Homo sapiens: one gene and its partners. The protein of the gene in region 2 interacts with the protein of the main gene of each other region in a pairwise test. Each region holds a gene or a part of one and is shown on either strand. Other genes may lie near its edges. The genes, in order: DDX6, LZTS1, TSGA10IP, PRPF18, CEP83, PLEKHA7 and ZMYND19.

Evidence for each region.
Region 1: the proteins of LZTS1 (region 2) and DDX6 interact in binary tests that used the Homo sapiens proteins (3 or more experiments, as listed by UniProt).
Region 3: the proteins of LZTS1 (region 2) and TSGA10IP interact in binary tests that used the Homo sapiens proteins (3 or more experiments, as listed by UniProt).
Region 4: the proteins of LZTS1 (region 2) and PRPF18 interact in binary tests that used the Homo sapiens proteins (3 or more experiments, as listed by UniProt).
Region 5: the proteins of LZTS1 (region 2) and CEP83 interact in binary tests that used the Homo sapiens proteins (3 or more experiments, as listed by UniProt).
Region 6: the proteins of LZTS1 (region 2) and PLEKHA7 interact in binary tests that used the Homo sapiens proteins (3 or more experiments, as listed by UniProt).
Region 7: the proteins of LZTS1 (region 2) and ZMYND19 interact in binary tests that used the Homo sapiens proteins (3 or more experiments, as listed by UniProt).

What each region holds. Positions count from the first base shown.
Region 1 is NC_000011.10:118,784,665-118,788,164, reverse strand, and holds part of DDX6 (probable ATP-dependent RNA helicase DDX6), read left to right. Parts: intron 1-1,646; 5' UTR 1,647-1,913; coding exon 1,914-2,113; intron 2,114-3,500.
Region 2 is NC_000008.11:20,255,464-20,258,963, forward strand, and holds part of LZTS1 (leucine zipper putative tumor suppressor 1), read right to left. Parts: intron 1-3,500. UniProt on the Homo sapiens protein: Involved in the regulation of cell growth. May stabilize the active CDC2-cyclin B1 complex and thereby contribute to the regulation of the cell cycle and the prevention of uncontrolled cell proliferation. May act as a tumor suppressor.
Region 3 is NC_000011.10:65,948,480-65,951,979, forward strand, and holds part of TSGA10IP (testis-specific protein 10-interacting protein), read left to right. Parts: intron 1-3,500.
Region 4 is NC_000010.11:13,589,965-13,593,464, forward strand, and holds part of PRPF18 (pre-mRNA-splicing factor 18), read left to right. Parts: intron 1-1,803; exon of another isoform or gene 1,804-1,903; coding exon of another isoform or gene 1,904-1,924; intron 1,925-3,500.
Region 5 is NC_000012.12:94,457,068-94,461,355, reverse strand, and holds the start of CEP83 (centrosomal protein of 83 kDa), read left to right. Parts: upstream 1-1,488; 5' UTR 1,489-1,799; intron 1,800-4,288. UniProt on the Homo sapiens protein: Component of the distal appendage region of the centriole involved in the initiation of primary cilium assembly.
Region 6 is NC_000011.10:16,776,797-16,780,414, reverse strand, and holds the end of PLEKHA7 (pleckstrin homology domain-containing family A member 7), read left to right. Parts: intron 1-1,394; coding exon 1,395-1,417; 3' UTR 1,418-3,118; downstream 3,119-3,618. UniProt on the Homo sapiens protein: Required for zonula adherens biogenesis and maintenance. Acts via its interaction with CAMSAP3, which anchors microtubules at their minus-ends to zonula adherens, leading to the recruitment of KIFC3 kinesin to the junctional site.
Region 7 is NC_000009.12:137,584,547-137,587,512, forward strand, and holds part of ZMYND19 (zinc finger MYND domain-containing protein 19), read right to left. Parts: intron 2,562-2,966; coding exon 2,421-2,561; intron 1-2,420. UniProt on the Homo sapiens protein: May be involved as a regulatory molecule in GPR24/MCH-R1 signaling.

The DNA of each region.
Region 1 (3,500 bases), on a different chromosome or scaffold from region 2:
AGTTAATTTTTGTATTTTAGTGGAACGGAGTTTCACCGTGTTGGTCAGGTGGTCTTGAACTCCTGACCTCAGGTGATCCACCAGTCTTGGCCTCCCAAAGTGTTGGGATTACAGGCGTGAGCTACCGTGCCCCTCCTACCAGTTCTTTTTTTTTTTTTTAAACTATTAATTAGCTTTACTACTCTGGATTTCTTGGAAAGTTTTCTTAAAATTACTAGTGTGTTTAGTCTTCCGCGGATTTTTTTTTAAACAGGAATTTTCCTGTTTTTTTAAATTTAAAATTAGAATAGTTATTAGCTAAGTTTGTTATAAATGAATAAAATTATTAGAGTCATCTTGGTTTTGTCAATTTCAAAATAAAAATTCATTTATACAAAATTTGTGTATATCATCCGTCCTTGGGATCATTACTTGCTGGATGCATTATGGCAGAAATACACTATTCTCTTGACTGCTTCATTTATTGTTTTAAAGGACAAAAAGGAAAAAAGAAAATACATTTTTCTTCTTAAAGTTTTTTGTTGTTTTTTGAGACAAGGTCTCTGTCACCTGGCTCACTGCAGCCTCCGTCTGCCAGGTTCAAGCGATTCTCGTGCTTCAGCCTCCCAAGTAGCTGGGACTCCATTACAGGTGTGCACCACCATGCCCGGCTAAATTTTGTTTTTTGTTTTTTTTTTCTTGTTTGTTTTTGTTTTTGAGACGGAGTCTGGCTCTGTCGCTGAGGCTGGAGTGCAGTGGCACAATCTTGGCTCACTGCAACCTCCGCCTCCTGGGTTCAAGCAGTTCTCTGCCTCAGCCTCCCAAGTAGCTGGAATTACAGGCGCTCGCCACCACGCCTGGCTAATTTTTGTATTTTTAGTAGAGACAGGGTTTCACCATCTTGGCCAGGCTGATCCTGAACTCCTGACCTCATGATCCACCTTCCTCGGCCTCCTAAAGTGCTGGGATTACAGGCATGAGCCACTGCACCCGGCCTAAATTTTGTATTTTTAGTAGAGATGGGGTTTCGCTATGTTGTCCAGGCTGGTCTCTAACTCCTGACCTCAAGAGATCGCCCGCATTGGCCTCTCAAAGTGCTGCGATTACAGGCCTGAGCCACCAGCACCCAGCCCATAAAGTTTAATAGTTGAAATTTGTAAGGGCACAAAGGTGTTTTTTTCTGGAAGTGTGAAGTTCAAGTCAAAAGCTCACTTAAATCTATAAGGACTCTCGGTTGCTATTACAAGTAGAAGAAAATTAATGAATTGTCTTGTTTAAATTGTGTGATACTTCAGTGAGTTGTAATGCAATTAAGTATAATGAATCACTGACTTTTAGAGATGTCAGAGACTTAGAGAATTCATGGGGAGGAAACTGAAGAGAAGAGATTATCATTGACGAGTAGTGCTAATTTACTAGTCTCTTTCTACTTAATCTCTGGATTGCTTTGAATTAACAATTTTAAATGTTTGATATTGGCCTCATTGTGTTTTTGAGATAGTTCAAAGTTGTGTCTATCCTAGCTTGGCTCGTGATTTGGTCTAAGTGTAGCTGTATTATTAATTCTTTAATATAAAAGATGAGAATTCTTTTAAAGGGGTTCTTTTAAAAGGGAAACAAAGTTTTTCTGTTGTGTTTGCTAATTTAATTTTGTTTGTTTGTTTCAGATTGACGTGAGTGAATTCAGATATAACTCAAGCTTGTTAGAGGGCTTTTTAAAAATAAAAAGTTGATTCCGTGCAAGAGAGCAAGTTACTGCTGCTTACCGTTCAGAGACTTACAGGTGCTTGCCTGCATTGCAATAAAGGACTCATTTATTGAGCAAGACTTATATTTATCTCTTCATTTTGGAGAGCCTAATAAACTGTTATTACAGTTTCTCTACTGACTTTCAAAAGTTTTGAAGTTTGAAAGACCTTTGCAATTAAAACAGCATGAGCACGGCCAGAACAGAGAACCCTGTTATAATGGGTCTGTCCAGTCAAAATGGTCAGCTGAGAGGCCCTGTGAAACCCACTGGTGGCCCTGGAGGAGGGGGCACACAGACACAGCAACAGATGAACCAGCTGAAAAACACCAACACAATCAATAATGGCACTCAGCAGCAAGCACAGAGTATGACCACCACTATTAAGTAAGTGTTAGAGTAAATTATTAATAAACACTTGTGGGGAACCAAGATTTGTGTTACTTTGGTGTTGACTATTAATACTTATGCCTTAATTTAACCATTTTGATTCCAAATAGAGGACAGATGACTTTGTTTTATGGCCAGTAGGTATTTGCAATAGAATAATATATTTCTGCCATAATTTGTTCAGCAAGTAGTCATCCTGAGGTCAGATGATACACACAAATTTTGTATAAATGGTTTTTGGAAACATTTCTGGCTTTCATAATTAGTGTAAAAGTTATTAGCTTAGTTTGTTGTAAATGAATAAAATTATTAGTCATCTCGTTTTTGTCAGTATAGTTTTTTTACGACTGCACCTTACCCTAGTTAAACAGCAGATAAAGCCAACTTTATGTATTAAATTTAAAGACTCAGTCTGAGTCTTTAGAGTCTTTAAAGACTTGCCCAGCCTTCTGAACTCCAAGCATTATTCACTCAGAAAATTTTCTCGTAACTTTTTTTAGCTTATGGAACTTAGCTTTTTTACTTTAAAAAAAAAAAAAAGTTGGCTGGTTGAGGTGACTCATGCCTGTAATCCCTGTACTTTGGGGAGGCCAATGTGGGAGGATCACTTGAGTCCAGGAGTTTGAGACCAGCCTAGGCAACATAATGAGACTCTGTCTCTACCCAAAAAAAAAATTTTTAATTTTTTTCCTCCTTTTACATATAAAAAGGGAACTAAGAATTTTGAACTCACAGAACACAGTTCTGAACAGTCTCAGAAACCTTTTGTTAACCTTAAAATTGAAGAGCCTCCTCTTACTAGAGGATATTTTTTCTTTTAAAGCTGAAAGTATGTAGGCTATTTGTTACTTTTAAGTGCATAGTTTAAATTACAATATTTGAATGGTAACCATCACTTTAAAGATTCAGTTATAGGAAATTAACATTTAAGATTCTTGACTCCAGTTGATGTTTGGCTTTTGTTAAGAACTTGCCATATAGGTCCGGGTGCAGTGGCACACGCCTGTAGTCCAAGCACATTGGGAGGCCAAGGTGGGCGGATCACCTGAGGTCGGGAGTTCGAGACCAGCCTGACAAACATGGAGAAACCTTGTCTCTACTAAAAATAAACCCCGTCTCTACTAAAAGTACAAAATTAGCTGGGCGTGGTGGCACATGCCCATAATGCTACTTGGGAGGCTGAGGCAGGAGAATCACTTAAACCCGGGAGGCGGAGTTGCAGTGAGCCGAGATTGCACCATTGCACTCCAGCTTGGGCAACAAGAGCGAAACTCCATCTCAAAAAAAAAAAAGGCCAGGTGCGGTAGCTCACGCCTTTAATCCCAGCACTTTGGGAGGCTGAGGCAGGTAGATCACGAGGTCAAAAGTTTGAGGCCAGCCTGAC
Region 2 (3,500 bases):
GTCTGATAATTCAACAAACATTCACTGGGAGCCCACTTCATGCAAGCCTCTACTCTAAACACTCGGGACCCAGCAAGTGACTAAAACAGTCACAGTCCCTGCATTCCTGGAACTTAGGGTTACAGTGGTGTGGAGAGGCCAGAAGCAAACCAATGTATACTATAGCAAGTGGTACCAGTGCTGCGGGTACCAGTGCTGCGGGTACCAGTGCTGCGGGGGAAACTGGAGCAGAGAGGACAGAACAGAATTCTGGGAGGTGGCTGTTTTATGCAGGAAGGTCTTCTTTTGTTAGGGTAGCATTTTAAAAGGCTTCAAGAAAATGAGGGGGCAGCCAGGCATGATGGTTCACACCTGTAATCCCAGCACTCTGGGAGGCTGAGGTGGGCAGATTGCTTGAGTCCAGGAGTTCGAGACCAGCCTGTGCAACTTAGAGAAACCCCATTTCTACTAAAAATACAAAAATTAGCCGGGCGTAGTGGTGCACACCTGTAATCCCAGCTACTTGGGAGGGTGAGGTGGGAGAATCGTCTGAGCCCCGGGGATCAAGGCTGCAGTGAGCCACAATTGTGCCACTGCACTCCAGCCTGGGCCTGACTCAAAAAAAAAAAAAAAAAAAAAAAAGAAGAAGAAGAAAAGAAAATGAGGTGCAAGTCATATGAAAATCTAGGGGGAGAGGGGTACCAGAAGAAACCCCAAGTATAAAAGCCTGAGTCCCTGAGGCAGAGGGGGCTTGGCTGTGTGAGACCCACATGGGAAGCAGCCTGGCTGGAGAACAATTAGCAAGGCTGGGAAGGAGAAACAGAAACCAGGAGCCAGCAGACATCAGAGAACAAGGAGGCTGTGCAGCTCAAAGAGCTCTGGCTTTGCTTGGGTTGAGACAAGGAGCCCCTGGATGGCTTTAAGCAGCTGACACCTTGATCTGCCTTAGGTTGGGGAAGGTCACTCTGGCTTCCGGGTGGGGAAGAAGCTTATTGAGGAGACGGGGGATAGAAGTGGTGGCCAATTACAGGCTAATAGTCTAGGGTGGTAGTTGTGGATTTAGATGTGGTGGTGGCTCACGTCTGTAATCCCAGCATTTTGGGAGGCCAAGGCAGGAGGATCACTTGAGGCCAGGAGTTCAAGACCAGCCTGGGCAACACAGTGAGACCCTGTCTCTAAAAAACAGTTTTCAATGTAATTTTGAGGTTGAGCTGACAGGACTTGCTAAAGGATCAGATGTAGGGAGTGAGCGAAAGAGAGGAGTCAGGGACAATGCCAAAGAGAGGAGTTTGGTTGAAGACATTCAGTTTGCAAAGCCTATTTGGCATCCAGGGAGTGATGGAGAGTAGGCAGGAGGGTGAGTGGGCAGCTGCTGGGAGCTGCAGATGCACTTGTCAGAGCTGGGAGTGTGGAAGTGGCTATGAGACTAGATGGGGTCACCAAAGAGCGGATGCAGAAAGACAAGAGAGGCCTGAGGATGGTTAACATGGAGCACTCGGCATCTGGAGGTCAGGCAGGTTAGGAGAAGTGAAAAAGAGCAGCAGAGAAGGTTTTCAGGGTGATGTCGATATAGAAGACCTAAGAAAGCCAAGTCAAGAAATTGTTTCCTAAAAATGGTGTCAAATGGCCAGGCGCAATGGCTCAAGCCTGTAATCCCAGCACTTTGGGAGGCCAAGGTGGGCAGATCACTTGAGGTCAAGGGTTTGAAACCAGCCTGGCTAACATGGTGGAACCCCGTCTCTACTAAAAATATAAAAAATTAGCCAGGCAAATTGGGCATGGTGGCACGCACCTGTAGTCCCAGCTACTGAGGAAGCTGAGGCATGAGAATAGCTTGAACCCAGGAGGCGGAGGTTGCAGTGAGCTGAGATCACGCCACTGCACTCCAGCCTGGGCAACAGACTGAGTTCCTGTCTCAAAAAAAAAAGTTGTCAAGTGCTGCTGAAAGTAAGATAACAATTGAGAATTAGTCAATGCATTTGGCCATGTGGAGATCTTTGGTAACCTTGACAAGAGCAGTTTTGGAGGAATGGTGGAAGGAAGGCCTCATTGAGAAGATTCAAGAGAGAAAGAAGGAGAAAGTCATTACAGCCTTAATGTTGAGAAGTACCCAGCCGACTTGGTGTGCATTCTAGTTACATCACCTGCCAGCTATGACATGGAAGGTAAACTGTTTAATATCTTTAACCTTCAGTGTTACAAACTAATTCTAAGACACCCTTAAACTTTTTTTTTTTTTTTTTTTGAGATAGAGTCTCACTCTGTTGCCCAGGCTGGAGTGCAGTGGCATGATCTTGGCTCACTGCAACCTCCACCTCGCGGGTTCAAATGATTCTCCCACCTCAGTCTCCCACATAGCTGGGATTACAGGTGAGCACCACCATGACTGGCTGGCTAATCTTTGTATTTTTAGTAGAGATGGGGTTTTCCCATGTTGGCCAGGCTGGTCTCGAACTCCTGACCTCAGGTGATCCACCTGCCTAGGCCTCCCAAAGTGCCGGGATTATAGGCGTGAGCCACCGGACTGGGCACATTTTTTTTTTAAAGTAATAGGATAGCATCTAATAATCAATGCTTAAACAATAACAACCTTGTCAGTCACCAGACAGGAGAAATTGGGATGTCAGTGCCAGCACATGTGCAGATTCAGGCAAATCTCTAAGTTTAGATCACACAATTTTCAAAGCTAGGAAAGGTTGGTGATTGTCATGCACTGTGAAGTATTTCTTAGTCAAAAGACAGATATCCAATTAAGAAGGGGAAAGCCACAAGTTTAATAAAACAGGAGATGTGGAAGGAGCCTCTGTTCTTCGCTGAGCTCTAAATTATACCATCCATCCTAAAGGGGCTAAAGAAATCCCAGGTGGGACATGGAGAACTGCATGGGCACAGCTGAAAGGGAGCCAGAAACTTTCTGACTCTGTTTTTTAATTTTAATTTTATTATATATATATTTTTTACAATTAGCAGTTGTGCATGGAGACTCTGTGACTCTGAATATCTAGGCTTCGATTCAAACTTGCGTTATCATCCTGAAGAATAAAGAGGTTATGTTATGAATATGTTCTATATTTTGTTAGGAAAAGCATGACACAACAAAACTTCGTTGTGTAAGTTTAATATGTTTTGATGTGAAAAGCTTTTATTGAATTGATGGCTTTGTATACTCGAGGAAATACAGTGAAGCAGCCTACCTCATAGGATCGTTATGAGAAATTTAAGAAATACCACCATAAGATAACAGCTCTGGAACATTTACTCAATACTTAGTACATAGTGGGCACTCAATAAATGCTAGGCAGTGTTATCGGTATCTGTTACTTATATTGTGACCATTGTCCTTGCCAACATCCATCATCCCTATGGATCTGGGGAGCCTCAATGTCCAAACTCACTTTCCAGAGCTAATCCTTTCCTTCTAAATGCAACCTTTCTGCCTCCCATTCCTGCGAGGTGTGACTTAGGAGCACAGGGTGGCTCTGCTGATATAAACTTGACACTGACAAAATGTGTTTTCATCC
Region 3 (3,500 bases), on a different chromosome or scaffold from region 2:
TTATCTACTCATGGGCCCTTAGGATATAACTATTAAAAGACTTGGAATTAGCTGGGCATGGTGACACGTGCTTGTAGTCCCAGCTACTCAGGAGGCTGAGGTAGGAGGATCTCTTGAGTTCAGGAGATCAAGACTGCAGTGAGCTATGATCCCACCATTGCATTCAGCATGGGCAACAGAGTGAGACACTGTCTCTAAAAAAGAAGTTAAGGGGCCGGGCGTGGTGGCTCACGCCTATAATCCTAGCACTTTGGGAGGCCAAGGCGTGTGGATTGTCTGAGCTCAAGAGTTCGAGACCAGCCTGGGCAACATGGCGAAACCCTGTCTCTACTGAAAATATAAAAAATTATCCAAGTATGGTGGTGTGTGCCTGGAGTCCCAGCTACTCAGGAGGCTGAGACATGAGAATCACTTGAACCTGGGAGGCGGAGGTTGCAGTGAGCTGAGATTGCAGCACTGCACTCCAGCCTGGGTGACAGAGTGAGACTCTGTCTCAAACGAACAAACAAACGAACAAAAAACCCAGCCTGGTCAACATAGCTAGACCCCTGTCTCTACAAAGGAAAAAAAAAAGATTAGCCTGGCTTGGTGGAAAGTGTCTGTAGCCCCAGCTACTCCAGAGGCTGAGTCAGGAGGATCTCTTGAGCCCAGGAGATCAAGGCTGCAGTGAGCCATGATGACATCACTGAATTTTAGTCTGGACAACAGAGCGAGCCTCTGTTTCTAAAGCAAAGGAGACAGTGGGAGCTGAAGGGGAGACTGGAGGCTGTGAGGAGACTGTTGGCAACACTGAGGTGAGGAACCAAGAGGCCCTGTGGATGGAGGGAGGGGATCCATTTAAGAGACACTTAGAGGCTGGTTCAATAGGCCATGGTGACTGGTGACAGGAGGCATGTGAGGGCAGGGGAGAGTTCATTCAGCATTCTTATAGCACCCCACAATTTTTTTTTTTTTTGAGATGGAGTCTCACTCTGTTGCCCAGGCTGGAGTGCAGTGGCACAGTCTTGGCTCACTGCAACCTCCGACTCCCAGGTTCAAGTGATTCTCCTGCCTCAGCCTCCCAAGTAGCTGGGACTACAGGAGCCCACCACCACGCCTGGCTAATTTTTGTATTTTTAGTACAGACGGGGTTTTACTATGTTGGCCAGGCTGGTCTTGAACTCCTGACCTCGTGATCTGCCCGCCTCGGCCTCCCAAAGTGCTGGGATTATAGGCATGAGCCACTGCGCCCAGCCACAATTCTTTTTTTAAAATTTATTTTATGTAATTGATAAATAAAAATTGTATTTATGGTGTACAACATGAGGTTTTGAAATATGTTTATATTGTTGAAGGTCTAAATCAAACTAATTAACATATGCATTACCTCGGTTTTTTTTTTTTTTTTTTTTTGAGACAGAGTCTTGCTCTGTTCCCAGGCTGGAGTGCTGTGGTGTGATCTCAGTTCACTGCAACCTCCGTCTCCAGGGTTCAAGCAATTCTCATGCCTCAGCATCCCAAATGGCTGGGATTACCGGTGCCTGCCACCACACCTGGCTAATTTTTGTATTTTTAATAGAGATGGGGTTTCACCATATTGGCCAGGCTGGTTTCGAACTCCAGACCTCATGATCTGCCCGCCTCAGCCTCCCAAAGTGCGGGGATCACAGGCGTGAGCCACCACTCCCGGTCTTACTTGATTTTTTTTTTTGTAGTGAGAACACTTAAAATCTACTCTTTTATTGATTTTTAAGTATACAATACATTGCTTTTAACTACAGACACCAGATCATACAATAGATCTCTTGAACTTATTTCTCCTCTCTAACTGAAATTTCTTATCCTTTGACCAACATCTCCCTTCTTCTCCCCACAAACCCAGTGAGGACTTGGTAACCACCATTCTACTCTCTGCTTCTATGAGTTTGACTTTATTTATTTATTTATTTATTTAGAGACAGGGTCTTGCTGTGTTGCCCAGGCTGCAGTGCAGTGGCACAATCATGGCTCACTGCATCCTTGACTTCCAGGGCTCAAGTGATCCTCCCACTTCAGCCTCCTGAGCTCTAGGACTGCAGTCATGAGCCACCATGCCTGGCTAATTTTTTTTTTTTTTTCTGAGATGGAGTCTTGTCTCACTGTTGCCCAGGCTGGAGTGCAGTGGCGCGATCTCAGCTCACTGCAAGCTCCGCCTCCCGGGTTCACGCCATTCTCCTGCCTCAGCCTCCTGAGTAGCTGGGACTACAGGCACCCGCCACCACACCCAGCTAAGTTTTTGTATTTTTAGTAGAGATGGGGTTTCACTGTGTTAGCCAGGATGGTCTCGCTATCCTGACCTCGTGATCCACCCGCCTCAGCCTCCCAAGGTGCTGGGATTACAGGCGTGAGCCACCACACCTGGCTGCTGGCTAATTTTTAAAATTTTGGTAGAGATGGGGTCCCATTATGCTGAGTTTGACTTTTTTAAGATTTGGCACATAAGGGAGATTATATGGTATTTGTTTTCCTGTGCCTGGCTTATTTCACTTAACATAGTGTCCTCCAGGTTTATGCATGTTGTTGCAAATGATGGGATTTTCTTCTTTTTAAGGCTGAAGAATGCCATTGTGTATATATACCACCTTTTCTTTATCCATTCTTCTGTTGATGGAATCTTAGGTTGATCTCATATCTTTGCTACTGTGAATATTCCTGCAATGAACATAGGAGTACAGCTACCTCTTCAACATACTAATTTCATTTCCTTTGAATATGTACCCAGAAGTGGGTTGCTGGATCACATAGTAGTTCTACTTGTAATTTTTTGGGGAACCTTGATATTGTTTTCTATAATGACTGTACTAATTTATATTCCCACCAACAGTAAACAGAGATTCCCTTTTCTCCACATCATCACCAACCCTTATCTTTCATCATTTTGGTAATAGTCATTCTAACAGGCGTGAGGTGATATCTTATTATCATTTTATTTTGCATTTCCCAGATGATTAGTGATTAGTGATGAAAAAGACATTTGTATGTCTTTTTTTGAGAAATGTCTATTTGGGTTATTTGCTTATTTTATTATTATTATTATTATTATTATTATTATTATTTTGAGATGGAGTCTCGCTCTGTCGCCCAGGCTAGAGTGCAGTGCCACGATCATAGCTCACTGCAGCTTTGAATTCCTGGGCACAAGTGACCCTCTCACCTCAGCCTCCTGAGTAGCTGGGATTACAGGTGCATGCCACCACATCCAGCTGATTTATTTTTTAACTTTTTATTTGTAGAGATAGGTGTCTTGCTATGTGGCCCAGGCTGGTCTCAACCCCTGGCTTCAGGTGATCCTGCTGCCTCCACCTCCCAAAGTGTTGAGATTACAGGTGTGAGTCACCATGCCCTGACTCTTTGCCTTTTTTTTTTTTTTGAGATGGAGCCTCACTTCGTCACCCAGGATGGAGTGCAGTGGCATAATCTTGGCTCACTGCAACCTCCCCCTCCCAGGTTCAAGTGATTCTCTTGCCTCAGCCTCCTGAGTA
Region 4 (3,500 bases), on a different chromosome or scaffold from region 2:
GTGGATGTTAGGAAGGGCCAGGGTGTTGAAATCTAAGTGCTTTAAAGGGAAAAGTGAATCACAAAATATTCAGCCCACCCTCAAGGTTCACAACATGAATATTTGCATAATCATGTTCTTCGTCATTGAAATGCACCAATCTACAAAAATGATCATTAAAAAAAAAACTTTAGATTCTTCAGGGTCATTTATAATTTATAATATATAAACTTTTCCTGGGTGTCTTTCATTTTTTAATTTGGTAGTTGATTGAATTATCACATAATTCCAGCCAGAAGATAAGATTGATTTTTTCAATCACAGAGCAGTTCAGACCAACAAAGGGCGTACATGAAATGGGAATTAAAATACTGACATTCGGCCGGGCGCGGTGGCTCACGCCTGTAATCCCAGCACTTTGGGAGCCTGGGGTGGGCAGATCACGAGATTGAGACCATCCTGGCTAACACGGTGAAACCCCATCTCTACTGAAAATACAAAAAAAAAAAATATATATATATATATATATTAGCTGGGCATGGTGGCAGGTGCCTGTAGTCCCAGCTACTCAGGAGGCTGAGGCAGGAGAATGGCGTGAACCCGGGAGGCGGGGCTTGCAGTGAGCTGATATTGTGCCACTGCACTGCAGCCTGGGCGACAGAGCGAGACTCCATCTCAAAAAAAAAAAAAAAAAATACTGACATTCATAGTTTATATTAGCAGTAATGTTAGGCATCATGCAATATGTGTTTTCTAACTTGTACAACAAGTTGCCATTGTTCCCATTTACAGATGAGGAAACTGGAAGCTAAGAGAAGTTACATGACTATAGGATTATGCAGCTAGCAAGAGATAGAGCCTGGATTTGAACCCTGGTCTGTTCCTACTTCAGAGCCTGATCTGTTAACCTGTACAGATAGAATGGATATTTATTCACCTTACAAACATAGAACTAGTTTTGATAGGGCTAATGTAACAAAGCACTGGAAAATTATTAGACTAACATGATTTATATTTTTCAAAGTGCTATATGCTATCTGATTTGAGCTTTACAACGGTTAATTAGTGCACAAGGCAATGCTGTTTTCATGGATGATGAAATTGAGGCTTAGAGGGTTACACGATGTTCTCATATTCCTGTGGCCAGCCGGGATAGATCTCAAGTCTTAGACCAACTTGAGGGTGAGTGCTCTTGCATGATGTAAGGGAACATACACAACTAGGCGTCTTTTCTGTTGTATCCATGGGAAGACAGTCTTTAGATCTGCAGCTCTATCATTTCATGCAGAATAGTTGCTTTATATTTTTCATCTTTCTGCATCACAGTGTCTGTCAGTAACTTACAGACTTTTTCACTGCCCCGTTCATAGCAATACATTTTTATATATTGATCTGATATGTATGTGAAAAAAGTTTTATGAAATAATTCTTACAACCACAAATGATTTTATCATGTTTTATTCAGTCCTCCTTTTTTGTTATCAGTTATTTAATTAGGTTCTTCTTAAGAAATGTAGAACACCAATTTGTGAGGATAAATTCCATGAGTCGGGGCAAACACAGATCGCAGGTAGTCCTGGAGCTTAGGAATAGCTTTGATTTTTGGTAAAATTTGTGACTCCACAGCTTTCTGATCAATCTTGTGCTGCTCTGTAATCTTGTATTTATCTTTTTCTGTGCTGAAGATCTCAGCTTCCTGGTGTCTGGGCTTCTGCAGCTGCTGCTGCTTGAATAAGCATCAGTGGGATGTTTTGGGATTTTTACATCGCTGATAACAATTTTGGTTGAGGTGGCAATGACAGATTTCTGGTGTTTTCTTCATAGAGGAACTCGATTGAGGACCAGAGGTCCAGTCACAAGTAACAAGCCACTAGCCAGGTGCTTCAGGAAGACCGCCCTCTTGCCTCTGTGGAATCCAGTGAGGATGATCAGAACGTTCCCCGGGGTAATGCTGGTTCGCAGTTTTCTCACGTGTCAACTGAGGGTTTTTTTTTTTTTTTGCCATGGCTCAACAGCTTTTGAGGCACATCTTCAGTAGGAAAATATCTAGGCATTTTATGAAGTTTAACCACCTGGGTACTACCATTCTTGTCACCACCAACTGGTTTTGTAACAGTTGCAAGAACCTTCTTTTTCTTTTCAACCTCGTACTTAGCGGCTGAGTACTTCCTCTTATACACAGCTTTTCTGGAATACATAGCACATCGGGAATACCTGCCAATTCCTCTGACAAGGACAGGGTTGTGCTGCAATGGGGCTTCCCCTTCTTGGGCTTCTTAGCCTTGAGGTGACCCTTTTTCACCTTGTCACCAGCCTCAGCCTTCTTGGCTTTGGGTTTCTTCTCTTTAGTATCCGGCTTCTCAACTTTTTCACCCACCATCTTACAAGATGGGGAAGAGCAAGTCCCTTTGTTTTAATTTTTTAGAAAACACGGGTCAGGGATCAGTAGATTGTTGTCATTACCGCATCTGTAGCTGGAAAACAGTTGTCTGTGTGGTGTTGCTCTTGCAGAAAGAAGAGCCACCTCATCTTTGGTCATTTCAAGTGGTGTCCCAGCTTTTTGTGGTTAATCTGTGATAGTTGAAATAATCAGTACTTAGCTTGTGAGTGCCTCTTTCTCAAATTGCAGAGAAGTGACTAAGATATCCTCTTACCACCTGTCCTAAAGTGCCCTGCCTGGTGTAACCACCCTGAGGTAAATGTGTCTGCATTGCTAGAACACCAGTGTTTTGGAGCCTAGAATTGGTGAGTTTTCATTTAATGCAAAACCTCGTGTGGAAAACCAGGCTGCTCTAGAAACTCAATGGGGAGTAATTAGTAGTTTTACTAGTTGTAGTTATGAGGATGAGCTATGTGCAGAATTTTAGCTTTTTTTCCTTCCAGTATTTACTGCATCTTTCCTATATGCAAGATACTATGCTGTGCTGCAGTAACAATGCTACAATAATCAAAACAGCATAGCGCTGGCATAAAGAGCAACAGCTAACACCACTAGAGTATAACAGAGCACCCAGAACGGAGCCACCCTTACACAATTATTGATTTTTGACAAATACACTAAAACCAAATGGAAGGAAAGATATTTTCAGTAAATGATGCTGAACAACTGGATATCCATACGGAAATAATAAGCAACAACCCCTACCCCACATTATACAAAACATTCTGAAATGAAGGACCAATGGAAGGAATGGCAGGAACCAACATGGGAGACATTGGAAAATAAAATTAGTAAGGAAAACTGTATACTAGTTCTAATACATTGGAAAATCTAAGTGAAGTAAATGGCTAAAAAGTACAAAAAAATACAAGAAATAGAAAATCTAAGCAAACCAGTAAGTGAGGAAGACATAAGAAGAATCTGTCAGCTAAGAGGAGAAAGTTACTGAAGGAAGGAAGGAATGAGCAGTTAAATCGAAGACTGGATGAGATCAGTCAGAGAAGTCTCTTTGGATTTGTATCTTAGACATTATTTATGACCCCAAGGAGGTTTTTTCAGTGAAACAGAATGGATGTCCACA
Region 5 (4,288 bases), on a different chromosome or scaffold from region 2:
CTCCTGACCTCAGGTGATCCACCTGCCTTGGCCTCCCAGCGTGCTGGGATTACAGGCGTGAGCCACCGCCATTTCCCGAATGATCTTTTTCCTACTGACCAATAATTTGTCATGTATAGTTTACTGGCTACCACAGAGATTTCTGGAGTTGTCTGGCTCCAGCGTTTAAAAGTAATGGTTTTGGGCAACTCTGTGAAATGGAGATAACAATTGCACCTACCTTACAGAAATGTTAGAGTTAAATAAGATAACCTGAAAAAGTACTCCAGTACTTGCCACACAAATGCTCAGCAAATGTGAGCTACTGTTATTATACTAAACACGCACACATACATGAGAATTTCTGGATTCTCTATTCTATCTCCCATGTCTCATCTATGTAATCCATCCAGCAACATTCCATTACCAACTCGCTGTCCTTTTTTTCCCTCCTCTTAAGAGACACGGTCCTTTCTAATGGCCCGTTTTCCCTCATTTCAACAACAACAAAATCACCTCTCAGTTGTCCAATAATAACTACAGCCTGAAAATCATAATCTTGGGGGTAAAAATAAGCTGTACTTCACAAAGCAGTGAGAATCAAAGCCCAACCAAGGCACTGAACAAACGCTGGGGATGGGAAGGTGTCTGTTTCTTCCAACACGTATTTTGAAAGGCTGACCGCCTACTTTGTTTCAGACTTTGGATGATCATGGAAGTTCTCAAAAGCTAGCAACTCCTCTTCCAACTATTGTTTACAGCCTTAAGACAAGTAGTTCCCCATGTGACCCCAGGTGGGCCCTGAACTTGGGATAACCAGGACAGGAGACTTGGAGCAGGAGGTGCGGGGGCGAGGAGGGCTCTCTCCCGGGCGATTGGTCCTAACCCGAGGTTCCCTCGTGGCAAGCTGAGCCGACTCCCCACTCGTGGGCTGATGCCCGAGGCAGACGCGGCAGGCAGGCGGCTTCGGGAGCGCATATCTGCACCCATGGGGACGATGGCAGGCTGGCGAAGGGAGAGAGGTGGCGGCAGGACTACCATTTGAGGCTCTCAAATGGTGTGGGGAAGAGGGAAGGAGAGGCGCGAAAAGGAGGAAAACCCCTGGAGACGCTGTGTCGGGCGGAGGCTAGGGAGACCGGCTTCGCGCTCCAACGACGCGCATCACTCAGACTCCAAGGCAAGTGCCCGGGGCTAGATTTTCCGTCCCCTGGGGCTCTGGGGATCTCTGAGTCCATCCCAGGGCCCTCCAGGAACGCCTTCGGGAGCGCAGCCCGGCCCCGCCGCTGCCGCTGTCACCCGTGGCCGCTCCCGCCTCGGTTCGTTTGTCTCCTCCCTCTAACGGCTCCGGCAGCAACCGGCGTCGGTGGCGTGGGTGACGTCGGCGTGGGGGGTGGGACTTCCTGCTTCGCGTGCCGCTGGGCCAAGGGACAGAGCCCGCTCCTCCAGGCTGGTGGGGCGGTGCGATGAGGCGGCTTCTGGGCCATACGTCAGCACGTGGGGTGGCGCCGCACCCCTGAGGATCCCGGTCCACGCGGAGGAGTGGGGCTTTTCACCGCCGCCGCCGCCGCCCTCGGACCTCTCCCGGGATACTTCACATTTCCCTAGGGACGGGAGCCCGAGGGGTCCGTTCGGCCCTCTTCCTCTCGCTGGGCCGACACCCCGCTGTAGGACCGTAACCCTTAGTCCCAATGCCTCCGTAAGCGGAGTTGAGTGGGTGCCTGTGGTTGGAGCTGTGGAGGTGTCCCCGGTGGCGAGCGCGGCCAGAACTGCGGTCACTTAAGTTTTCCGTGTGCGGGTTGCAAGGAGCGTGCGTGCGTCTGGTATGTAACCTCTCTTTCTGGGGACGGTGTCTTGTTTGTATTTTGGAATACTCATTTTGTCCCTCCACAAACTGCCCTTGAATCCTTTTTTTATTTTCCTGTTAAAGTAGTGGAAGCTCGTGCTAGAAAAGTAGGCAGAGAGACGCACGTGAAACTCTTCATGGAGCTTTTGGATGCACTCTGGCTTGGTGGTTGTGTAGCCAGTTTGGTAATTGGCCAGACGTTTAAGTACCTCCAGCTTAATTTACGATGAAAAAGCTATGCTACCATTTTCCTTGGCTTTGAAGACAATTTGAATGAACAGTGATGTCGACTGTCATTACTGAGATAAACACCTAAAATATGTTAGCATATGCTGGGTTTAAATACTTTGGTTAATCCTCAGTGTCCAACTTTTGACCATAATCAATGGGCATTTTGCTCTTAAGAATATCCACTGCTAAGTATTTGTAAAGCCTTTAGTTAGCTGAAATGAGGAAGCTCTTTCAAATCTTACAGATCTCTAGGATAAGGAAAGACTTGTCTGAATTTCGTGTATATGATATATACTTCATAATCTGTTCAGACTTTAAGCAGCTCTAAAACAGAGTGGGTTGTTAAAGCAGTGCTTCTGTTACCAAGCAACATGTCTGTAAACAAGTCTGACATTTAACTAAAACACAATTAAAGGTATCTATCCTACAGTTACCTGGATTTAGAATTTTCCATATTTATGAATTTAGCCTGTAAGTGGTTAGAATTAATACTCACCTTTTGTATTGAGGTTTGATTTCAAACTCAGTTTGTTCAGAATTGTTAGAATGCTTTATTTATTTATTTATGACTGAGTCTCACTCTGTCGCCCAGGCTGGAGTGCAGTAGCGCGATCTCGGCTCACTGCAACCTCCGCCTCCTGGGTTCAAGCGATTCTCCTGCCTCAGCCTCCCGAGTAGCTGGGATTACAGGTGCGTGCCACCATGCCCGGCTAATTTTTTTATTTTAGTAGAGATGGGGTTTCACCATGTTGGCCAGGCTGGTCTCAAACTCCCGACCTCAGGTGATCCGCCCACCTCGGCCTCCCAAAGTGCTGGGATTACAGGTGTGAGCCACCGCACCAGGCCAGAATGCTTTAAATTATAAGTGTCACACAGGACTCTCCTGAGAGTTGCAAATGGTTTTGAGTTGTCCTTTGGTTATTTAGGACAGAGTATGCTGGGTATTCCCCTTACTTTGAGTGTTTTCTTTCCAGATCAGATGAAGTGCGCGGACTGTATTTAGAACATTCTCAAATAATAGTGAAATACAATTTAGAATTCCATGCAGCACTGGGAGAATGAAACACTGATTATTCACAGGTAGTTTTTTTTTTTTTCTTTTTTTGAGACAGAGTTTCATTCTTGTCGCTCAGGCTGGAGTGCAGTGGTGGGATCTCAGCTCACTGCAACTTCCGCCTCCCAGTTTCAAGTGATTCTCTCCTCTCAGCCTCCCGAGTAGCTGGGGTTACAGGTGCATGCCACCATGCCCTGCTAATTTTTGTATTTTTAGTAGAGATGGGGTTTCACCATATTGCCCAGGCTGGTCACGAACTCCTGACTTCAGGCGATCTGCCCACCTTGACCTCCCAAAGTGCTGGGATTACAGGTGTGAGCCAGCGTGCCTGGCCTATTCACAGGTAGTTTTTAATCCTTGGTTTACCAGTCACCTCACTGTCTCCTCTTATTGAACCCTTAATGATAAAATTTTTATGGCAAGTTGTTAGTTTTTAGAGCACTTTTTGAATGATCTTTTCAATCAATAACCTTTCAAGTAAGCAAGTATGTGAGAAAATTTGAGACATGATGAGACTAAATGACTTCTTTGAAATCTATTAATAATGGGAATTGGAACTTGAAGTTTAATGTTCTTTATGTCAGATACCCTTATGTATTGCTAAAATCCATGGACTTAATTTTAGTTCTCTCCTCCTTTTTTCTATATGCTGATGTTGAAGTAATGAAATATTCAAAAGTTGGGCAAGATGGAGGAGACAAATCAAGAATGACTCGTATAATCCTTAGTAATCAGAAATCAGCATTATGTCATGGGATGTTCTAATTCAAGAAGCTTAGAGTGAAATCTTAACAGAAAGATTAGTGAATTTTAGTGAATTGTCAGAATTTCCCCACCCCCAGGTACTGTCTCTTTGCCTAAAAGTAGATGAGCTTGCTTTTAATTTTGTCATACATATTAGGTTCCATAAGTAAATTGCCCACATTGTTTAACCTATGTGCTTTTAGGGAATGTGTGTAAATCTGTGTAAAAAACTTCCTTTTAACCCAAGTTCATGTTTCTTGACTTAAGGTGAATTATTTGAAATCCTCTCACCTTGCCTTTTCAAGTGTATGTTCTTTATGGAAAAGGTGTCTCTGCCCAGATTGGTTTCTTCACTATCCCCTAAACCTGCTCTGTACTTTATCCTTTCCATATTAGTCTGCATATCTTTCTATCCCCCGTGACCTGATCTTATTCCC
Region 6 (3,618 bases), on a different chromosome or scaffold from region 2:
CACTGGGCACTTTAAGAGGGAGAGAAAGGGAAGCCCAGGGCAATGTGAAATTGGCCCTCAGCCAGGCAGAAAGCTCTGGCACCAACCCTACCAAGTTCTCCCCATGTGGGCATCTAGTGATGAGAGGCAGTGTGGGATGAGGAGGGAGCCCTGAAACAGGAGGCTGGCATCTGGTCCAGTCTCAAGTGAGTTCTTGGCCTGGGCCTGTTGCTTTTGAGCCCAGCGGTTCACCTGGACAGGGGAAGGTCAGACTACCAGTCTGGGCAGTCCTTACCCTGACATCCCATCCCACTATCATTTTGCAGGGCTTTCCCCTCTCCTTCCTTTACGTATACTTGTGGTTAACATTGTTGAGTGCCTGCTGTGTGCCAGGCATTGTGCTAAGTATCTCTTTCGATCCACACAACAACCCTATGAAGATATTCCCCCCCCCCTCCCCGTTTTAGAGATGAAAAAACAAAAGCTCAGAGGCCTTGAGGGATATGCGCAAGGAATCGCAGCTTGTTAAGTGCTGGGGTTTGAACCCCTTTGATGTGAGTTCAGAGCCTTTGTTCCCCATCACCACTCATGGGTTCATCTGGGCCGCCCCGAGCAGCTCTAGGTGTTTGGAGAAAGAAGTGAAAGGAGGGAGAGAGTATTTGTGCTGCAGGGAGCGAAGCATGATTTTTTGGCAGGTGTCTATCCTGGGTGCTCCCCGTGCCTCACAGCAGAGTCAGCAGGTCCCCGCCAGCCTGAGCATGAGAGGAAGAGGTCAGCCTCCTTGGGCCAGGCTCTGAGGAGGTGTGGAGTAGAGGCCCCGTGGTTGAGGAGCCATAGGGAAGTGCTCTAGCCACGCCCATTGTGAAGGCCACATTTGAGGGTGTGGCTTTCTCCTAGAGATCTGAGCACAGTAACAGCGCTCAGTCACAGAGAGGCAGGAGAGAGGTTCTGTTCCTCCTGGGTTTTGGTGCCCCCATGGCTGTAAGATTGGCCTATTATACTCTTTGGAGTACTGCATTTCTTCTTACTCTCAAAGCATCCTTGTTAAGAAGTGGGTATGACCACCATGTTTTTTAGGTTAGAAAAACAAGGCCCACAGAGGCCAAGAGCGCTACCCACATTGAAAGAATGAAGGGCAGGGCCAGACTGCACCTTTATTAGAGTCTTTGCCCTGTCGGGATGGGGACCCAATTTAGGGGCCAGCATGTGTCTAGCAGTGGAATAGGGGTGCAGGGAGGGTGGGGCAAGAGCCCCATGTGTCCTGGAAGCTGAGGGTCCCCCAGCAGCGGCCGCATTGCCAGAGCCCCCTGCTCTGCTGCTCTGCCTGTCCGCCTATCTGCCATTCCATCATGTGTGTGCAGACGTGCCTGCTCCCTGGATGCCAGCCTCTCACTGTCTCCTGTGCTTTTTGCCAGCCCAGGCAGTGACTGACCCGTGACCCAGCATGCAAAGAAGCCTGGAGCCAGGGGCCCAGTGGAACCAGCTTCCTCCAAGGAGATGACCTTTCTGCCCCCAAGGAAACCCCTTCCAGCTGAGCAGGGAATCCGGCCGGAGGAAGGAGCAGCTTACCGACTGCGGGTGTTCACCACAGGCCAGGCCCTAATATGCACCCACTAGTTTAGCTCAGACTCCTCTCTACATATGAATGGCAAAGGCACTTTTGATATACACTGTAAAATACACTGTATTTTAGAATCGGAATCTATTTTCTAATGTTCCCCTCAAGGGCTGAGTGGCAGGAAGGTTGAGGATGCAGGACTTTGCAGCTGCACGTACAGATTCAGGTACTTCTGGGTGACAGGTGTTGTGGGGGCAGGAAGGGCGGGGCAAGCCGAGGCTAGTCCAACTTCCAATGACCTCAGGAGAAAGTGAGATTTAAAGAGGTGTTCCCAGTAGACTCCAGCAAGAGGCTGGTTGGCGTGCTGTCTGGGAGAAGAGGGGCCCTTGGCTGCAGAGATCAGCTGTCCCTGACCTGATGACCAGCTCTGTGTGAAACTCCACGAGGATCACACGTGGAGCCCAAGTCTGTGCCTTGCCCCTTGGGTTTGGCTTAGGGGCAACAGTGTGTTCAAGAGGACTGGGGCCCACAACCTGCCCCCAGGCTTCCTCCAGCAAAAGGCTCTTGTCAGAAAGAAAAAAGCAGTTTGCTATCTTTTTTTTTTTTTGAGATGGAGTTTCACTCTTGTTGCCCAGGCTGGAGTGCAATGGCACGATCTCGGTTCACTGCAACCTCTGCCTCCTGGGTTCAAGTGATTCTCCTGCCTCAGCCTCCCAAGTAGCTAGGATTACAGGCATGTGCCACCACGCCCGGCTAATTTTGTATTTTTAGTAGAGACGGGGGTTTCTTCATGTTGGTGAGGTTGGTCTCGAACTCCTGACCTCAGGTGATTCATCCGCTTCAGCATCCCAAAGTGTTGGGATTACAGCCGTGAGCCACCACGCCCAGCCTGCTTTCATTTTTAACAGTACACATTGAAATACAGAAAAGGTGAGAGGAAGCAACTTTCATTGTATCGTAGCAATAAACTCCACACTGGGTGACATCTACCTAGAAATCCCTTCCCTCTAACCAGGCCATGATGGGAACCTTTGCTGCCTGCCCTTGGAGAACCCCGGATTGGCTTCCCTGGGACTCAGGTCTGGTGGCAGGAGGGCAGCAGTGTGCCCCCACCATCCCTCATGGCCTGCCGCCAGCAGGGCCATAATGGCAGGACTTTGATTTGACTTCCAGCCCCACATGAGGAGGGGGGCTACCAAGCCAGGTGCAGTGTTTGTGGCCCTTTATTTAAGTTGTTTTCTTATATTATTCTGCATATAAACAATGACGTTTAAATGGAAAAAACAACAACAACGAAAACCTCCATTGGGTGGAGCCACACTTTAAATGAAAATTTCTCTTTGACTATGCTCAGAAAAAAAAATAGAATTTTGAATATATCTAGCAGTTGTTGTCTATTTTTAACTAACTCCATATGCTGCCAGTATCGACTTCATGACATTTGCCAAAATAAAATTTTATTTTTGCCTTTATAAGATTTTCTTGGAAAAAATGAAATGAATATTTTGCAAGAAAAAGTTAATTTAAAAATGTAATGGTTTGCAAAAAAAATGTGATGTACAGATTAAAATATTAACCTGATACGTTTCCTGTTTCTTGCTGGCTATAGTCTCTGGTGAGTGGCCTGTGTACGTTTGTTTCCATTTCTTTGGAAAATCCCCACTGTCAGCTCTCGGCCCTGCTTCTATTTACCTATGAAAAGTTTCTTCTGGTGACGATTCCTTGACATTTGATTGACTGTAGAGGCCTGGATTGAGGAGGCCTGTGCTTCTGGGCCCCTGGCTAGGCTTCCACAGTTGCTCAAGGCAACCCCCTACCCCATCCCAGTCAAAGAGCCACCAGGCTGTGGACTCCCTTGTGGGGCTGGTTTGTCAGACAGACTGCAGTCCAATTCAAGACAGCGCAGGGAACGCTGTGGGCCCCCTTCCAACCCACATGCTGCCGGCTCGCTCCTGGGAGGCAGCTTAGTGACGGACCATTGCAAACTGGATTTGTATTTAATTCATTTTGACTTGTGATGTATGCTCACAACAGAAGGCAAGAAGCCAGTTCCATTGAGGGGTGTGTATATTTCTGAGCTG
Region 7 (2,966 bases), on a different chromosome or scaffold from region 2:
GAAGGCATTGCCAGGTGGAGTGGTGAGCAGCGGGCGAACTTGCGGAGTTGGGAAGGGCCCATCCCAGCATCAACACTGAGCATGTATCAATGTGGGACAACGCAGGAGGAGATGCTACAGATGCTGCTCTGCCTGCCAAGCACGCCTTCCCCTTCCCCTTCCCTTTTCATGTAGAAAAGTGATTCTAAGCAAGCTAACTACAGTTCATCCCAGGGCTTCCCCAGACACCACTAGAACAGGGTGCCTGCTTCAGTCCGCAAGTGCTAGGTAGTGCCCATGCCGCCTCCCAGAGAGGAGCCGGGAGTGGGGGCGCAGAGCTGGAGGCAGCAGCATCCCTGGCTCTCCACATTTCAGTCAGGATACCAAAATGTACCCTATTTTTGTTTCAGCCAAATTGACCTTTGTTTCTGTTTCTTGCAACCCAAAGTTCCAACTAACATAATCCCCGAAAGAATAAAAACCCCATTCAACAATCGTAAGAGGCCTGGCTTCACTCACAAGCAGTATGAGGAAGGTCAAAACTCTAATATTAGAGCAAGGACCGGGCGTGGTGGTGCACACCCGTAATCCCAGCTACTCAAGAGGCTGAAGCGGGGCCAGGCGTGGTGGCTCACGCCTGTAATCCCAGCACTTTGGGAGGCTGAGGCAGGCGGATCACCTGAGGTCAGGAGTTCAAGACCAGCCTGGCCAACATGGCAAAATCCCACCTCTACTAAAAATACAAAAATTAGCCAGGCGTGGTGGTGGGCACCTGTAACCCCAGCTACTAGGAAGACTGGGGCAGAATTGCTTGAACTGGGCAGGCAGAAGCTACAGCGAGCCAAGGTCGCGCTACTCCAGCCTAGGCAACAGAGCCAGACTCCGTCTCAAAAAAAAAAAAAAAAAAAAATGCTGAGGCAAGAGGATTCCCTGAAGCCAGGAGTTCAAGAACAGCCTGGGCAACATAGTGAGACCCATCCGTAAAATTAATTAATTTAATGAAATAAACAGAGCAGGGAAAAAAAAACACCAGCCCAACAAGAACGAAAGACACTTCAGGCTCTGCCTTCGTCCTGAGAGGCCCAGTGAGGAAGGGATGGGGGGGGATTTGTAGGACTCCCTCCAGGGTGGCAGGAACAGCAGTTTGGGAGTGGCATTTTGGAGGCCTGGGGACTGTCCCCACATCACCAACCAGTGTGTCAGGTGCTCCCACTGTTTCCACCTCGGCTGCCCAGGGCTCTGGCATGACTCTGAGGTGACAACTGCAAAGATTCTACCCACAGCCACCAACCATCACCAAGCCCGAAACACTAAACCTTACCAGCGTTGCTGACAACCATCTGCTAGGGCAGTTCGCACTGCCTGCACCAGGAAAGGCTGCCCAGAGGCTTGAGGACGTGCCCAAAAGCCCCAGGGCGCCAGGGGAACATGTCAGTGAAGCGTGTGTGGCTGGGGACTCCCTGGCTCAACTGGGCTCCCAACCCCTATCCTGCTGGTCCCTTGGCTCTTCCCAAGGGCTCCATGAAGTTCACAGACTGGCTGGTTCTAGGGCCAGCAGGAACCGCCCTCCCAGGTGGGAAGCCCATGCAAAGCACTGCTTTCAGGATCACAGGCAGGTCGGGGGCCGAGGGCTGAGCCCTGAACCATTCTCCGCTTTAAACCTTTGCTTAAGGAAAACTGTTTAGCAAAAGAACACAACAAAAAGACCCATCTGTGTGCACAGAAAAGAATCCTGAGGTGAGGAGAGAAGGAAGGAATCCTGAGGTGAGCAGAGAAGGAAGGAATCCTGAGGTGAGCAGAGAAGGAAGGAATCCTGAGGTGAGCAGAGAAGGAAGGAATCCTGAGGTGAGCAGAGAAGGAAGGAATCCTGAGGTGAGGAGAGAAGGAAGGAATCCTGACGTGAGCAGAGAAGGAAGGAATCCCGAGGTGAGGAGAGAAGGAAGGAATCCCGAGGTGAGAGAAGGAAGGAATCCCGAGGTGAGAGAAGGAAGGAATCCTGAGGTGAGAGAAGGAAGGAATCCTGAGGTGAGAGAAGGAAGGAATCCTGAGGTGAGCAGAGAAGGAAGGAATCCTGAGGTGAGGAGAGAAGGCTGATGCCTCCCAGGGGTGTGGGGCAGAAGCCCTGCTCACACCGAGTCCCGACGCTGGCCCTGCCCTGGAGCAGGCAGCCCTTCTCCCCACTGTCATGCCAGCTAAAGGGAGGTTCCCAGAGCCAATTATAAGAGGAGCAATGCAAAAACACACACCATCAAGATCCTTCCCGCTCCCATGAAGAAAAGGAGGATTCCACGCTTTGGGGAAAAACAATGAAATTCCCAAAATACACAGAAGCATCAGGGCTCAGAGGAGGAACAGGAGACCCTCTTGGAAACAAGAGCTTTGGCGGTGGCCCTCCTCAAAAGGCGCCTCTGCTGGCATCGCCAGGCCCTGAGAAGACCCACCTCTGCTTGCTGGAGGTCTCTTCAGCCTTGGGCCGCCAGCCCCACGGCACCAGTTGCAGGTTGTCCAGGCGATTGTCCACGGTCACAGCGTTGAGGTGCACCACCTGGAAGCCCGGGGCCACGCCCCCCCGGTGCCGCTCCCTAGAAACAGACAGCAAACCCTGCATCTAACCCTGCATCGCTGCCTCCCACCCTCACAGACATTTCTGGTCAGGTACCAAAGTCCTTCCAGGAAGAAATGTCAGCCATGTGATCTGATCGGGCCCCTGGTCCTTTGGATGAGGGTACCTCAGGCGGAAGCTGCTGAGAGAAACCCAAGCACCTGATCTGTGGCCCAAACAGGACAGGGACACAGGGAGGACCCGGCCCCTGGACTTCAGAGCACAGACAGCCAAAGCTGGAACGCAAAACCACCTAAGCAGATGGCCTCGAGACAGCTCCCCATCTGAGTGGTCCCTACCATGCACACCGGGGGGGCTCGGCAAAACCCAGCAAGGGGAGCAACCACCGTCCCTCCAGAGGCTGCCGGTCCTGGGCAAGCTCCCA